2 linked regions of the Homo sapiens genome follow. The protein of the gene in region 1 purifies or fractionates together with the protein of each later gene. This does not show direct contact. Each region holds a gene or a part of one and is shown in the gene's direction. Other genes may lie near its edges.

The links. Proteins that work in one complex are often made in the same cells at the same time.
Region 2: the proteins of DOHH (region 1) and EIF5A purify together in Homo sapiens (affinity purification with mass spectrometry; 3 studies listed by BioGRID and IntAct, with this or other methods). This does not show direct contact.

Annotation. Positions count from the first base shown.
Region 1 is NC_000019.10:3,497,385-3,505,046, reverse strand, and holds the start of DOHH (deoxyhypusine hydroxylase), read left to right. Parts: upstream 1-4,372; 5' UTR 4,373-4,486; exon of another isoform or gene 4,487-5,112; intron 5,113-6,040; exon of another isoform or gene 6,041-6,308; intron 6,309-7,433; exon of another isoform or gene 7,434-7,662. UniProt on the Homo sapiens protein: Catalyzes the hydroxylation of the N(6)-(4-aminobutyl)-L-lysine intermediate produced by deoxyhypusine synthase/DHPS on a critical lysine of the eukaryotic translation initiation factor 5A/eIF-5A.
Region 2 is NC_000017.11:7,303,474-7,310,931, forward strand, and holds the start of EIF5A (eukaryotic translation initiation factor 5A-1), read left to right. Parts: upstream 1-4,154; 5' UTR 4,155-4,279; intron 4,280-4,495; exon of another isoform or gene 4,496-4,660; intron 4,661-4,899; exon of another isoform or gene 4,900-5,102; intron 5,103-5,497; exon of another isoform or gene 5,498-5,642; intron 5,643-6,141; coding exon of another isoform or gene 6,142-6,162; coding exon 6,163-6,327; coding exon of another isoform or gene 6,328-6,814; exon of another isoform or gene 6,815-7,458. UniProt on the Homo sapiens protein: Translation factor that promotes translation elongation and termination, particularly upon ribosome stalling at specific amino acid sequence contexts.

The DNA of each region.
Region 1 (7,662 bases):
CACAAAGTGCACACAACCCAAATGTACATCCACAGATGAAGGGAAAATGCTCCATTCATACAATGACACGGTGTTTTGCAATATGAGGCAATGAGGCTCGGACACAGGCTACAGATTGGATGAACCTCGAAAGCATCATGCCCAGTGAAAGAAGCCAGATACAAAAGACCACATAGTGAGTGATTCCATTGATACGAAATGTCCAGATAAGCAAATCCATAGAGACAGGAAGTGGATTAGTGGTTGCCAAGGGCTGGGAGAGGGGGATCAGGAGTGACTGGAATGGACTTTATTTTGGGGGGTTGATGGATATGTTCTAAAATTGATGTGATGGCCGTGAGCTGTGGCTCACACCTGTAATCCCAGCACTTTGGGAGGCTGAGGCGGGCAGATCACTTGAGGTCAGGAGTTCAAGATCAGCCTGGCCAATCTGGTGAAACCCCATCTCTACTAAAAATACAAAAATGAGCCGGGTGTGCTGGCGCGCACCTGTAGTCCCAGCTACTCGGGAGGCTGAAGCAGGGGAATCACTTGAACCCGGGAAGTGTAGGTTGCAGTGAGCCCAGATCATGCCACCACACTCCACCTTGGGTGTCAAAGCAAGACTCCGTCTCGGAAAAAAAAAAAAAAAATTTATGTGATGATGGCTGCCCGACTCTGAATATACTAAACACCACTGAATTATCACTTTACACAGATGAATTGTACAGTATGTAAACTATATCTCAATACAGCTGTTATTTAAAAAGTTCTTGCCCGGCGCAGTGGCTTGCGCCTATAATCCCAGTGCTTTGGGAGGCCAAGGAGGGCGGATTATGAAGTCAAGAGATCGAGACCATCCTGGTCAACATGGCGAAACCTCATCTCTACTAAAAATACAAAAATTAGCTGAGCGTGGTAGCACGCGCCTGTAATCCCAGCTTCTCGGGAGGCTGAGGCAGGAGAATCCCTTGAACCCGGGAGGCGGTGGTTGAAGTGAACCGAGATTGCACCACTGCACTCCAGAAAAAAAAAAAAAAATCCCCTTTGGAGCTGAGTTAAGGAGAAAAGAGAACAGGGAAAAGGAGGAGGCAAGAGGTTACAGTTTCAGATGCAGTGCTCGGGGATGCTCTTATTGCAAAGATGATGTTTTAATAAAGATCTGAAAGAGGAGCTGGGCGCAGTGACTAACGGCTGTAATCCCGGCACTTTGGTAGGCCGAGGTGGGCAGATTACTTGAGGTCAGGCCTTCAAGACCAGCCTGGCCAACATGGTGAAACCTCATCTCTACTAAAAATACAAAAATTAGCCGGGCATGGTAGCAGGCCCCTGTATTCCCAGCTACTCGGGAGGCTGAGGGAGGAGAATCGTTGGAACCCGGGAGGCAGAGGTTGCGGTGAGCTGAGATCGCGCCACTGCACTCCAGCCTGGGCAACACAGCAAGACTCTGTCTCAGAAGAATAAAATAAAAGGAGAGGAGAGGGAGATTCTAACACAGAAACACAGAGACAGACACACAGGGGTCAAGGCCAGGTGATGACAGTGGCAGAGATTGGAGTGACGAAGCCACAAGCTGAGAAACACCAAGGACTGGCGGCCACCCCCAGAAGCTGGAAGAGGCAGGAAGGATCCTCCCCTGGAGCCTCCAGAGAGGCCACAGATCTGCAGATACCTGGATTCCAGACTTCCGCCCCCCAGGGACTTGCTCAATCCCAGAGGACCCACCGAACAGAAGACGCAGACTTGGTTCTTCTGTGCTATCAGTTTCTCGAAGGTCTACAGAGGCCAGATGCCAAGTTCTCTGACTTACACAGGCCTTGCTTTTGGCTGAGGCTTCGATATCTGCGTCCTGCACCCTGGGATTATCTCCTCCTGGGGAGCATCCTTGGGGCCAGTCACACCTGGCACCCTGCCCTCGTAGCCTTCCTGAGTCAGCACAGCTCCTGGTCCACGGGAAGTCCTCCGTAAACAGCCTGAGCCACAAACATGTTGAGATGACGTCCTCGCAAGGCAGCTGAGGGCTGCAGTGATGCCTGTTATCTGCAGTCAGTTTTCCAACACATAGGAAGGCAATACAATAATTTAAAAAAAAAAAGGGGGGGTGGGCCGTGCACGGTGGCTCACGCCTGTAATCCCAGCACTTTGGGAGGCCGAGGCGGGCGGATCACGAGGTCAGGAGATCGAGACCATCCTGGCTAACACGGTGAAACCCCGTCTCTACTAAAAATACAAAAAAATTAGCTGGGCTTGGTGGTGGGCACCTGTCGTCCCAGCTACTTGGGAGGCTGAGGCAGGAGAATGGCGTGAACCCAGGAGGCGGAGCTTGCAGTGAGCTGAGATCGCCCCATTGCACTCCAGCCTGGGTGACAGAGCGAGACTCTGTCTCAAAAAAATAAAAGTGGGGGTGTCAGCTCCATGAGGCCAGACACTGTGTCTGTTTTGTCCTGTGTCCTCTGTGCCCAGGACACTATCCTCTGTGCTCAGGACACTGTCCAGCACACAGTAGTTGCTCAATAAGTATTTGTGAATGTTGTCTTAAAATAGAAGTTGGCCTTCCAAAAGGATTTCTTTGCTATGCACAGCATTTTATGTTTTTTCATTAATTTTTATTTAATTATTTTTTTGAGATGGAGTCTCACTCTGTCACCCAAGCTGGAGTGCAGTGACGCGATCTTGGCTCACTGCAACTTCCGTCTCCTGGGTTCAAGTGATGCTCCTGCCTCAGACTCCTGAGTAGCTGGAATTACAGGCACCCGCCACTAGGCCAAGCTAATTTTAGTATTTTTAGTAGAGATGGGGTTTCAGCATGTTGGCCATGCTGGTCTTGAACTCCTGACCACAAGTGATCCACCTGCCTTGGCCTCCCAAAGTGCTGGAATTACAGGCGTGAGCTACAATGCCCAGCCATGTTTTTTTATTAATTGCTCATTTTTTTTTTTTTTTTGAGATGGGGTCTTGCTCTGTCACCCAGGCTGGAATCCAGTGGTGTGATTACAGCTCACTGGATCCTTGAACTCCTGGACTCAAGCTATCAAGCCACCTGAGTAGCTGGGCCTACAGGCATGAGCCACCAGGCACAGTTGATTTTTTTTTTTTTTTTTTGGAAATGGAGTCTTGCTCTGTTGCCCAGGCTGGAGTGCAGTGACAGGATCTCAACTCACTGTAACCTGTGTCTCCCAGGCTCAAGCGATTCTCCTGCCTCAGCCACCCAAGTAGCTGGGATTACAGGCTGAGCCACTGCGCCCAGCCAAATTAAAAAAAATTTTTTTTCTGTTGAGACGGGGGCTTACCACATTGCCCAGGCTGGTCTTGGAATCTTGGGCTCAATCGATCATCCTCTCACCCCACAGCCTCCCAAAGTGCCAGGATTACAGGTATGAGCCACCACTCCTGGCAGTCACCCACATTTTAAAAATAAGAGATTGCAAGCAGGGCACAGTAGCTCACGCCTGTAATCCCAGCACTTTGGGAGGCCAAGGCAGGTGGATCACCTGAGGTCAGGAGTTTGAGACCAGCCTGGCCAACATAGTGAAACCCTGTCTCTACTAAAAATACAAAAAGTTAGCTGGTGTGGTGTTGCATGCCTGTAATCCCAGCTACTCGGGAAGCTGAAGCCTTTTTGTATTTTTAGTAGAGATGGGGGTTTCACCATGTTGGCCAGGCTGGTCTCGAACTCCTGACCTCAAGTGATAACACCCACCTCGGCCTCCCAAAGTGTTGGGATTACCGGTGTGAGCCACCGTACCCGGCCTCTTTCAGGTCTTTCTTCAGATGTCACCACCTCAGATTCTGGCCACCCTTCCTGAAACTGCACACCCTATACATACACCGCCCTTGGCTACCGAATTTTTTCTCGTTAGCCTTTTTCACCATCTAATAGGTATTGCATTTACTTATCGTGTTATTTTCTGTCTCTATAACAACACTGGGAGGCGTACGAGGGTAAGGGCTGAAGGCTCTCTTGTCCTCAAGGCCATGTACTATTTATTACATACATGAATGAATGAACGACTGCATTTCTTCCTTTTTTTATTCCTCACCTACTTAAGGTTCGAGCTCCCTGAGCCCATTGGCCAACACCTCTGGAGTCTGACCACGCCTAGAAACACTGCGCATGCTCCGTTGCTAGCCAGCCCAGGCAGGGCGCTGAATCGGCACAAACCAGTCTCACTTCTTGTACCGCAGTGGGGAGGTTGGAGAGAATTTTTTCCCATGAAAGGGCATACGTTGCCCGTCCCCTTCCCCGAAGAACGCACTAGGAATACTGTTCCTGCGTTTGCATGAGCTGTGGCACCAGCACCGACTCAGCCTTCCGGGCCTCCCTCATGCACGGAGCCTCTCACTAGGTCTCACCCGCGGCTGCGTTGGTGCCGTCCGGCACGGTCACGTGGGCGAGAAAATGGCGGCCCCCAGACCGCACTGCGGGCGTCGCGGCAGGTGAAGCGGTGGTGGCAGAGGCGCCTGCGGTTACTGGCCGGGCCGACGGGTCCTGAGTCTCCAGAGCTCGGTGAGGCGTCCCGGAGGCGGCGATCACGGTGTGGGGCCCGGGTCTGGCGGGCGGTGGCACCGGGAGCGCCTCGTTAGGGAATCCGGTCTCAGGGATTCGTTGACTGTGGATGGGGCGGGTTAAGGGGTCTCGAGTCCCGGCGATCTCTTTCCTCTGGGATTTTTTACATGAAAGAGTGCCCACCTCACGTCCTGAAGCTCCTATGTCGTACGGTTGGGTCTCAATGGTCCCCAGTGCCCTGCCAGCTCGCACAGGCCTGCCCTCTGGTTTCTGATGACCCCTCTTTAAAGGTGTCACTCTCCTTTGATGGTCACCTGTGCTTAGGTGGCTACACTGCCCTCGTCAAGCCCAGGCAGCCTTGCTGACGCCACTGTTCACCAGAGAGGGCTGCCAGCATGCCATAGCCAGCCTGTCTTGAGATGAAGCATCCGCCAGGTTCTCAGCCGATCTGGAAAGAGAGGGGTCCCTTCTCCCCTTGGCTGTGTTCTTTTATCCTAAGTCATTCAACAAAGCGTTGGTGGTTTAGAGCCCGACTCTGGAGCCAGACTTCCTGGATTCCTAACTCTTCACGCTGCTCCCAAGCAAGTTCCCAAGCACAGTCCCAAACTGTGCCTCAGTTTCCTCACCTGTAAAATGGGGACAATCTTAGTAACTACCTCACAGGGTAGTGATGTAGATCGAATGAATTAATGAATGTAAAGAGCATGGAGTGCCTGGCGCGTAGCAAATGCTACATAAGTGTCAGCTGCTATTGTCACGGTTGTCGTTTTTATTTTATTTATTTATTTTGAGACAGGGTCTTGCTTTGTAGCTCAGTCTGGAATGCAATGGCACGATCTCGGCTCACTGCAACCTCCGCCTCTCGAGTTCAGGCGATTCTCCTACCTCAGCCTCCCGAGTAGCTGGGATTACAGGCGCCCACCACCACGCCCAGCTAATTTTTGTATTTTTAGTAGAGATGGGGTTTCACCATGTTGGTCAGCTGGTCTCGAACTCCTGAACTCAGATGGTCTGTCCACCTCGGCCTCCCAAAGCGCTGGGATTACAGGCGTGAGCCACCGCGCCCAGCCGGTTATTGTTTTTATTGAGGCCCTACTGCGTGCAGGTCATTGCACTAAGTGCTGGGAATACAACAGTGACCAAGATAGACTCAGTCCCAGCCTTCAGAGTTCTATTCTAATGAGGGATAAGACCAATCACAAGCAACTAAACCAATACTTTCCAATATGATATCTAGGAGTCTTAGGCGCCGTGGAGAAAAATAAAGCTGAATAAGTGAAAAGAGATGGAAGAGTAACATTGTCCATTGTGATCAGGGAAGGCTTCCATGAGGAAGTGATGTTGGAGACCCAGGAAAGCAAGAGGATGAGCACGGGTGTTCCTGGACCAAACTGAGGGTCGGGCTGCTATTTCTCATGGTCCAATAACGAGATGCAGATTAACTGGGGAGGAAGAGAGTTTTTATTTCTGTAACCGGTTACAGGGAGAAGGCCTGGAAAATATCGCCAGACCAACTCAAAATGACAAAGTTTTCCAGAGCTTATATACCCTCTAAGCTCTCCATCTACATGTAACTGAGCATCCATCTAAAGACTTAAAGTGACTAACTTCTTTTAATCTATAACTAAGATCTGAATCCTGAAGACTTTCCTTTGGAACCTCAGTAAATTTACTTAATCTAAATGGGTCCAGGTGCTGGGGTGATCACCCTTATCTCATCTCCAGTGGGTCCAGGTGCTGGGGTGATCATCCTTATCTTGTCTCCTGCTAAATCATGGAGGTTTGGGGAGTTCTTCAGACACCCAGTAAAACTTGTTTCATCCTAAACGGGTCACATTAAGAATTCCTTCGTTATTGGCTGGGTGTGGTGGCTCAAGCCTGTAATTCCAGCAGTTTGGGAGGCTGAGGCGGGTGGATCACCTGAGGTTGGGAGTTCGAGACCAGCCTGACCAACATGGAGAAACCCTGTCTCTACTAAAAATACAAAATTAGCCGGGCATGGTGGTGCATGCCTATAATCCCAGATACTCGGGAGGCTGAGGCAGGAGAATCACTTGAACCCTGGAAGCATAGGTTGTGGTGAGCCGAGATAATGCCACTACACTCCAGCCTGGGCAAAAGAGCGAAACTCTGTCTCAAAAAAAAAAAAATTCCTTCATTATCTTGTCATGCCTTAAGGCCCAGGAAAGGCCTGGGCAAAACTCTTCATGGGCTTTTGTTACATTCCAGCCTTTGTATGAGGGCACTGGCTCTTTTAGCTTTTAATGTTTAACTTAACCACTCAGTCAGTGCTGAAACAGTTATGGAGGCCTGTGTTAGTGAGGCCTGGCCTGCTACGTGGGGACATCTAGGGAAGAATGTTCCTCATGGAGATCACAGCAAATGCAAAGGCCCTAGGGCTGCACTGGGCCTGGCGTGTTGGAGGAACAGCGAGGAGGCCTGTGTGGCTGGAGTGGAGCTAGAGAGGGAAGAGGTGATGGGAGATGGTCATGAAGGGCCTTTGGGACTGTCAAGTAGTTGAGTGAGGAGGCATAGGAGGATTTTAAGCAAGGGAGTGATATGGTCCAGTTTACATATTGAAAGTACTTCTGAATCTGTTATCTAAGCTGTGTAACAAAAATCCCCATAATGGCTGGGGGTAGTGGCTGATGCCTGTAATCCTAATGCTTTGGGAGGCTGAGGCAGGATGATCACTTGAGCTTGGGAGTTGGAGACCAGCCTGGGCAACATAGAAGTGAGACCCCATCTCTACAAATAATAAAAAAAAAATTAGCTGGGCATGCTGGTGTGTGCCTGTAGACACAGCCACTAGGAAGTCTGAGGCAGGAGGATCACTTGAGACTGGGAGTTCGAGGCTACAGTGAGCCGTGATCATGCTGCCGTACTCCAGCCTGGCGACAGAACAAGATCCTGTCTCAAAAACAAACAAAAAAACATACTTGGTTACCTTCAACAACAGTAAACAGTGTCGCACACAGTTGCTCTGGGCCTGGCTTAGCTGGCTGGCTCTGGGTCTGGCCTCTGGTAAGGCCTCAGTGGAGACGCTCTGGGGCTGCATCATCTGAAGGTTCGCTTGGGGCTGGACGAGCTGCTGCCAGCCCACTTCTCTCACATGGCTGTTGGTGGGAGGGCTCAGTTTTTTGCCACGTGGGCCCCTACAAAAGACTGCTTGAGCA
Region 2 (7,458 bases), on another chromosome or scaffold:
AGCACTTCGGGAGGCCGAGGAGGGTGCATCACGAGGTCAGGAGTTCAAGATCAGCCTAGCCAAGATGATGAAACCCCGTCTCTACTAAAAATAGACAAATTAGCCAGGCGTGGTGGCAGGTGCCTGTAATCCCAGCTACTCAGGAGGCCGAGGCAGGAGAATCGCTTGAACCCGAGAGGCGGAGGTTGCAGTGAGCTAGATCGTGCCACTGCACTCCAGCTCGAGTGACAGGGCAAGAATCCGTCTCAAAAAAAAAAAAAAGTAATAATGTTGCTTTGAACATTTATGTACAACATTTCTGTTTTTTTCTTTTCTTCTTTTTTTTTTTTTGACAGGGTTTTACTCTGTTACCCAGGCTGGAGTGCAGTGGTGTGATCACAGCTCACTACAGCCTTGAACTCCTAAGCTCAGGCAATCCTCCTGCTTCAGCCTCCCCAGTAGCTGGGACTACATGTACATATGACCACGCCTGGTTAATTTTTGTGTGTGTGTGATGGAGTTTTGCTCTTGTTGCCCAGGCTGGAGCACAACGGCATGATCTCGGCTCATTGCAACCTCTGCTTCAAGCTATTCTCCTGCCTCAGCCTCCTGAGTAGCTGGGATTACAGGCATGCGCCACCACACTAGGCTAATTTTGTATTTTTAGTAGAGATGGGGTTTCTCCATGTTGGTCAGGCTGGTCTCAAACTCCCGACCTCAGGTGATCCACCCGTCTCAGCCTCCCAAAGTGTTGGGATTGCAGGCGTGAGCCACTGCGCCCGGCTATTCTAGATGTTTTCTAAGAGTGGAATCATAGAATATGTGACCTTTTGCATCTTGACTTTTTTCACTTAGCATAATGTTTTCCAATATTCATCCAGTTATAGCACGTACTTCATCTCTTTTTATGGCTAAATAATATTCCACTGTATAGATATACCACATTTTAAAAATCCATTCATCTATTGACAGACATTTGGGTTCTTTCCACCTTTTTTGCTACTGTGAATAACTGCTGCTAATGAACACTCACATGCCCGGATTTGCTTTTTTTTTTTTTTGAGATGGAGTCTTGCTCTGTTGCCCAGGCTGGAGTGCAGTGGCGAGATCTCAGCTCACTGCAAGCTCCACCTCCCAGGTTTGCCATTCTCCTGCCTCAGCCTCCCAAATAGCTGGGATTACAGGCGCCCACAACCAGGCCCGGCTAATTTTTTTATTTTTAGTAGAGGCGGGGTGTCACCGTGTTAGCCAGGATGGTCTCCATCTCCCGACCTCATGAGCCGCCCGCCTCGGCCTCCCAAAGTGCTGGGATTACAGGCGTGAGCCACCGCACCCGGCCCGGATTTTCTTTGAGTACCTGTTTTTAATTCATTGGGAGTATATATACGTTGGAGTGGAATTGCTGGGTCACATGAACAATACATACTTTGCTTTGAGAAAAGCAGGTGTTGGACTTTTGAACAATGTACTCACAAAGTTGTTTGCGTTTTTTTGTTTTTGTTTTTGTTTTTTTTTTTTACAAAGGAAAGGGCATGAATTTCAGAAAATTGAGGGGAAGTAGCTGGGGGTTAGCATAACAGGCTACACAAATGTAGTAATTCAATCTAGTGTTTGCAGTTCACATGTATCGTGTCACAAGACTTTTTTTTTTTCTTTTTTAAGAAACAGGTTCTCTGTTGCCCAGGCTCAAGTGCAGTGGTGGGGATTATAGCTCAATGAAGCCTCGAACTCCTAGACTCAAGCTATCCCTCCACCTCAGCCTCCCAAGAAAGAGTAGCTAGGTCTACAGGCACCAGCCACTGAGCTGAGCTTTTCTTGTTTTTGTTTTTTTAATTTTTTATTTGTAGAGATGGGCCGTTGTTATGTTGCCCAGTCTGGTCTGTAACTGCTAGCCTCACGGGAGCCTCCCACCTTGACCTCCCAAAAAGCTAAGACTACAGGTATGAGCCACTATGCCCAACCCATGTTGCAGAATTTTTGCAACGTCCTGAAAAATTGGGAAGTTCAGGCATCATTATTATTCTCATTTTATGGGAAGAAAATTAAGGCAGAGCTATCTGAAGTAATTCCTTAAAGACACAAAAGAAGGATGAGATCCCAAGATCTTTGGTCGCTTGTTTCTGTCTTTTTTTTTTTTTTTTTTTTTTTGAGATGGCGTATTGCTCTGTCGTGCAGGCTGGAGTGCATTGGCGAGATCTCGGCTCACTGCAATCTCCACATTCTGGGTTCAAGCGATTCTCCTGCCTCAGCCTCCCGAGTAGCTGGGATTACAGGCACGCACCACCACGGCACGGCTAATTTTTGTATTTTTAGTGGGGACGGGGTTTCACCATGTTGGCCAGGTTGGTCTGGAACTCCTGACCCAAGTGATCTGCTCGCCTTGGCCTCCCAAAGTGCTGGGATTACAGGTGTGAGCCACTGCGCCTGGCCGCTTGTTTCAGTCTTGTTATCCAACAAGGCAGCCATGAAGGTAGTGCAAGAAACCCAGGAATTGGAAGAAGACTACGAAGTTTCAGGAAAAGCGAAATGGGGGGCGGAGAGAGGGAGGGCAAAGAAAATAAAGTTGGGAAGATAGCTCGTCTCCAGCTTCATGGTCTCCTATGATTAAGACAATGTCAATGTAATCTAACATACCACTTTTTTTTTTTTTTTTTTTTTTTTGAGACAGAGTCTCTCGCTGTGTCTCCTAGGCTGGAGTGCAGTGGTGCGATGTCGGCTAACTGCAACCTCCGCCTCCTGGGTTCAAGCGATTCTCCTGCCTCTGCCTCCCGAGTAGCTGGTACAGGCGCCCACCTCCACGCCCGGCTAATTTTTTTGTATTTTCAGTAGAGACGGGGGTTTCACTACGTTGGCCAGGCTGGTCTTGAACTCCTGACCTTGTGATCCGCCCGCCTCGGCCTCCCAAAGTGCTGGGATTACAGGCGTGAGCCACCGCTCCCGGCCTACCACTATTTTATTTTATTTATGTATTATTTATTTATGTTTTTGAGACTTGAGTTTCGCTCTTGTTACCCAGGCTGGAGTGCAATGGCGCAATCTCGGCTCACGGCAACCTCCACAGGAGAAGCGATTCTCCTGTCCCAGCCTCCCGAGTAGCTGGGATTACAGGCATGCGCCGCCACGCCCGGCTAATTTTGTATTTTTAGTAGAGACGGGGTTTCTCCATGTTGGTCAGGCTGGTCTCGAACTCCCGACCTCAGGTGATCCGCCCGCCTCGGCCTCCCAGAGTGCTGAGATTACAGGTGTCAGCCACCGCGCCCGGCCCACCACTCATTTTTATAGACAATTTTTTCTAAGGGACCTCGTAGACAATACTTTGGGGAACCGCAGAGCACAGTTGGGGAAAACACAGTAATACCATCTAAGTTTCTTTACTGAGGACCTCAGAGCCGAATGGCCTCTATGGATGCCATAGAGACCAATACGGACTGAGGGTTTAAAGAAGATGGTGTCCGCCGCAGGACCGCTCTATCTTCTCGGGTGAACTCTATGGCAGAGCATAGGCATTCGATTTAGAGAAGTGAAGCCGAGATGGGTGGGAACCCGACCACACTAGCGCGCTAGAAGAGTGGGGCGGAAAGACATCTCCCGCGCATGTGTGGAACTGGGGGGACTGATTCCAAGACAAGGCGCCCACCCCACAGAGCAAGTTTTCTGAAACGTGTGAGTCGTTTAAGTCCAGTTAAAGCCGAGGTGGGGCGTATCCTGAGACGCATGCGTTCTAGACGAGACAAGTGATCTAGCGGCGTGGTCTTTTCAACGCCTGGCGTACTGACGGCGTCTGAGGTGGAAGGGGTTGTTTAGGATTCCGAACACGCATGCGTTCTGAGACCCAGGCGTTTCCTTTAGAGGGTGTGGAGTGCAGGGCTCCTTATTGCGCAGGCGCAAGGACTGCCCGGTAGGACGAGCGGTCTATCAAGGGGAGGGAAGATGAGGTTGAAGAGATTAAAAAACCGGGTGCGCCTGCGCGTTGCAGATTAGTTGAAAACGCTCAGGGTTTGTGAGGGGCGGGGTCACGTATGCGCGTCATTGGACGGGTCGGTGGGAGGGAGGGTGGAGATGGGTAGGGTGTGTGCGCTTGCGCAGTGCGGGGGTGGAGGGCGGAGGAGATAGATAGCACGCTTGCGCGGCTGTCATAGGGCTGCTTGGTTGGTCAGTGGGGAGTCGGCGCCTGCGTACTAAGACCCGTGTGCAGCAGCGGCGGCGGCGGTAGAGGCGGCGGCGGCGGCGGCAGCGGGCTCGGAGGCAGCGGTTGGGCTCGCGGCGAGCGGACGGGGTCGAGTCAGTGCGTTCGCGCGAGGTGAGAGCGGGCAGGGCGCGTGTGCGCGGTACCTTGGCTTGGGCCCGGGAGAAGATGGAACTGCGCGGGGGTCGGGGAGGGGGCAGAGGGGAGCGGCGGCCGCCGCCGCACGGGTTCGGCCAGAGAGCGGCGCGAGGTGAGGAGAGGCGCGGGCGCGCGCCCCGGTTGGCGCGCGGGGTGACGGTTGGGGTTGGCCCGGTGACGTTGGAGCGACGCAGGGCGGGGGACGGCGAGCCGCGAGGCAGCCACGCGGGAGAGGCCGCCAGGCGGCCACGCCGGGGCGAGGGCCAGGGGCCAGATCGGCCCACCGGGGCAAGGGTACCTGGGCCGTTGAGGACCCGGCTCAGCGCGGCCACGTGAGGTGGGGGAGGGGGCTATTCGGTGAGAGGGCATGATGGGGGGGGTTGGCGGACGGCCGGGGGGAGGGGAGGCGGCGTGGCTCCGGCCTGGCGCAGTCTCTGAGGAGGGGGCGGCCGCGGCACCGGAAGTGCCCCCCACGGGAGGCTGCCCTCGGGGTCGCAGGCCGCATGGCCAAGCGTGGACCGGGGCCGCATGGCAGCGCGGGGACCCCTCCCCCCAGGTCCCGGCCACCGGAAGCCCGGAACGGCCACATGGTCGGCAGGAGCCGGCAGCCCCTAGCGCGGGGAGCTAGTCCTCGCGGGGGTTCCGAGGGGGCCTGAGATTTTGAGGAGTGGAAGCCGGAGGCTCGGGTCCTAATCACCCCGGAGGGCCTGCTGCAGGCATATGTTAGCGCTTCCCAACCTCAAGGGCCCCAGGAGCTTTCCTGAAAAACCCTCCTGTGAAGTGTGGCGGTCAGCCAGGTGTAAGTGGCACCCCTTCGAGCTGGGAGGCCGGAGAAATGGGGAAACAGGGCGTTTGGACAGGAGCCCAACTTTTCTGTCGGCCTGGGTGGACAGCGCCTAAAAGCCTCAGGCAGATGAGTTTCCCACCGTGATAGGCGTTCTTCACCTTGTCACTGTCTTCCTGTTGTAACTGGTTTGGGAGTTCCACGGTTTCGAAGTCCTTAACTCTACTAGCCTAGTATGATTTTCTACTACTCACTACTACCAACCTTTTGCTTTCATTTTATTGTCATTCACCACCCCCCACCTCTCCCACTTTCTACTGACTGTACTGGCCCGGCCTGAAAAGCCGACAGGACAGATGCATCCTGGGAAAAGTGGGAGGGCCTTCCAGGAGAGGCTGGGTTCCTGGGTTCTCTTTGGGAACCAAGATCGAGGTGTTTGGCAGGGGGATCATTTCGGAAACAACTTTGCTTTCTCCCCCTTGGCTTGTTGCAAGTGCATGTTGGCGAGGCGGGAATCCCCCAAAGAGGCCTTGTGGTTTCCTGTAGCAGTGACTGGTTTGTGTGTGGATGGGGGGGGGCAGTGTAACAGATGGGTGGGGCCTTGTCCTCCGGTCTCCACCCTCCCCCCCCCCAATTAGCCCTGCCCTTTTGCTGGATCATAGCTGCTCACCTAATTATAGCCCTGGCTATATGTGGGGAAGAGGGGTGGTTGGTTTCAGTGGCAAGTAACACCTGAGTCCTCCCCACTCCCAGGAAGTAGGCCTTTTCTCATCTCTGAGATTTGACATTCCAGCTCCCTAGAGCCTTCCTTTCCCAAGCCACCACTTTAGCTTTGATTTATGGGGGAGAAACCAGCTATTCCACCCTCCCATACACACACCAGTTCTTGAGTATATTTGAGCCCAGTCAGTATTTTAAGTTCAGGAACTTTGACTTTATTTTAGGTGGGTAATGGAATAAAGAGTTGGGAAAATGTTTCTGGAGAGAAATGGGATAGATTGGAGGTCCTGTTGACCTCCATGCTTATTCACTTCAGTTCTCTTCTTGGCTCTAGTTGGAATCGAAGCCTCTTAAAATGGCAGATGACTTGGACTTCGAGACAGGAGATGCAGGGGCCTCAGCCACCTTCCCAATGCAGTGCTCAGCATTACGTAAGAATGGCTTTGTGGTGCTCAAAGGCCGGCCATGTAAGATCGTCGAGATGTCTACTTCGAAGACTGGCAAGCACGGCCACGCCAAGGTTAGAATTTCACCTCCGCATCTTGCCTTCCCCATGCCTCCAGTATCTTTGGCGCTCCCAGCAGCAAGCTGCCAACAGTGCTGACTTTCCTTTAACTCTGCTTTTACTGTCTGATTGTTTTTGTTTAGCGCTCAGCCTTCATACCCATTCAGACAACTACACCTGCTCCCCAGTCTTCAGCCTCTTCTGTGGTTACCCTTCTGTCCCCGCATCATTCTCTGGCAGTCCCTCCGTTTCTCCAGCTTTGTGCCAATCTCTTCAATTCATAGGCCTTTATGCTCTAGCTATTCAGTTGCTCCTTCCTTATTCTTGGTTTTCACTTTTTCTTTCTTCCCTTGAGCCGTTGTTAAGTGGTTGCTTCCATCACGTTGCCCAGGGTTTCTCCAATTCTACGCCTTCCCCTGGAGGGACTCCTGCGTCAATTCTGAGCTTTCAGGTCACCTTGCTGCTTCGTTCCCCAGTTCTAGCTTTCCCTTTGGAACTCTGACGCAGGATCAAACTGCCCCTACCTGCCCCATCCCACTCTCCTTGGGTTCCTTGAGCCTCCATGCTTTCATGGGTTTTAACATTCTTGCTAGCACTTCCCTCATCACCTCAGACTTTTCCTGTCTCTTTAGAATTTCAACCTGATTCGTTCTTGTTGAATTTCTTGTGGTGTTTTTCCTTAATCAGTTTTTCCATCTTTTGACTTGACATTGATCTTGGATTATTCTCTAGTGTCTGGATCCCTCTCTGTGCTCTTCTGGCTTCCTTATTTTCTAGCTACATAGTTATTTCTGATCTCCCTGCAAGTCCTTTTCTTCAGCTCTTTCACATTTCTTAGTTTCTTATCCTTTCCCTTCTACCTTCCTTATTCCCCAGTTTCTCAGCTCCTTCTCCTGGTGTCCGGAAAACTCTTCGAAACTTTTACTCAGACTCCTCCCACTCCCCTAGACTCTTAGCATCTTATCTTTTATCAAGGTAACTGTCTTCTCCAAGCCTGCCATGCAGTTTTCTATTGTGCTGTCAACCCCAATCTCAACGGTGGTTTTTTAGCCTCTGTTTTTTTTCTTTAAGAGGCTTTACTGTTTCTTGAGTTGACTGGTTCAATTCCAACACTCCAGTCTTTGCCCCAACAATGTAATTCTGACT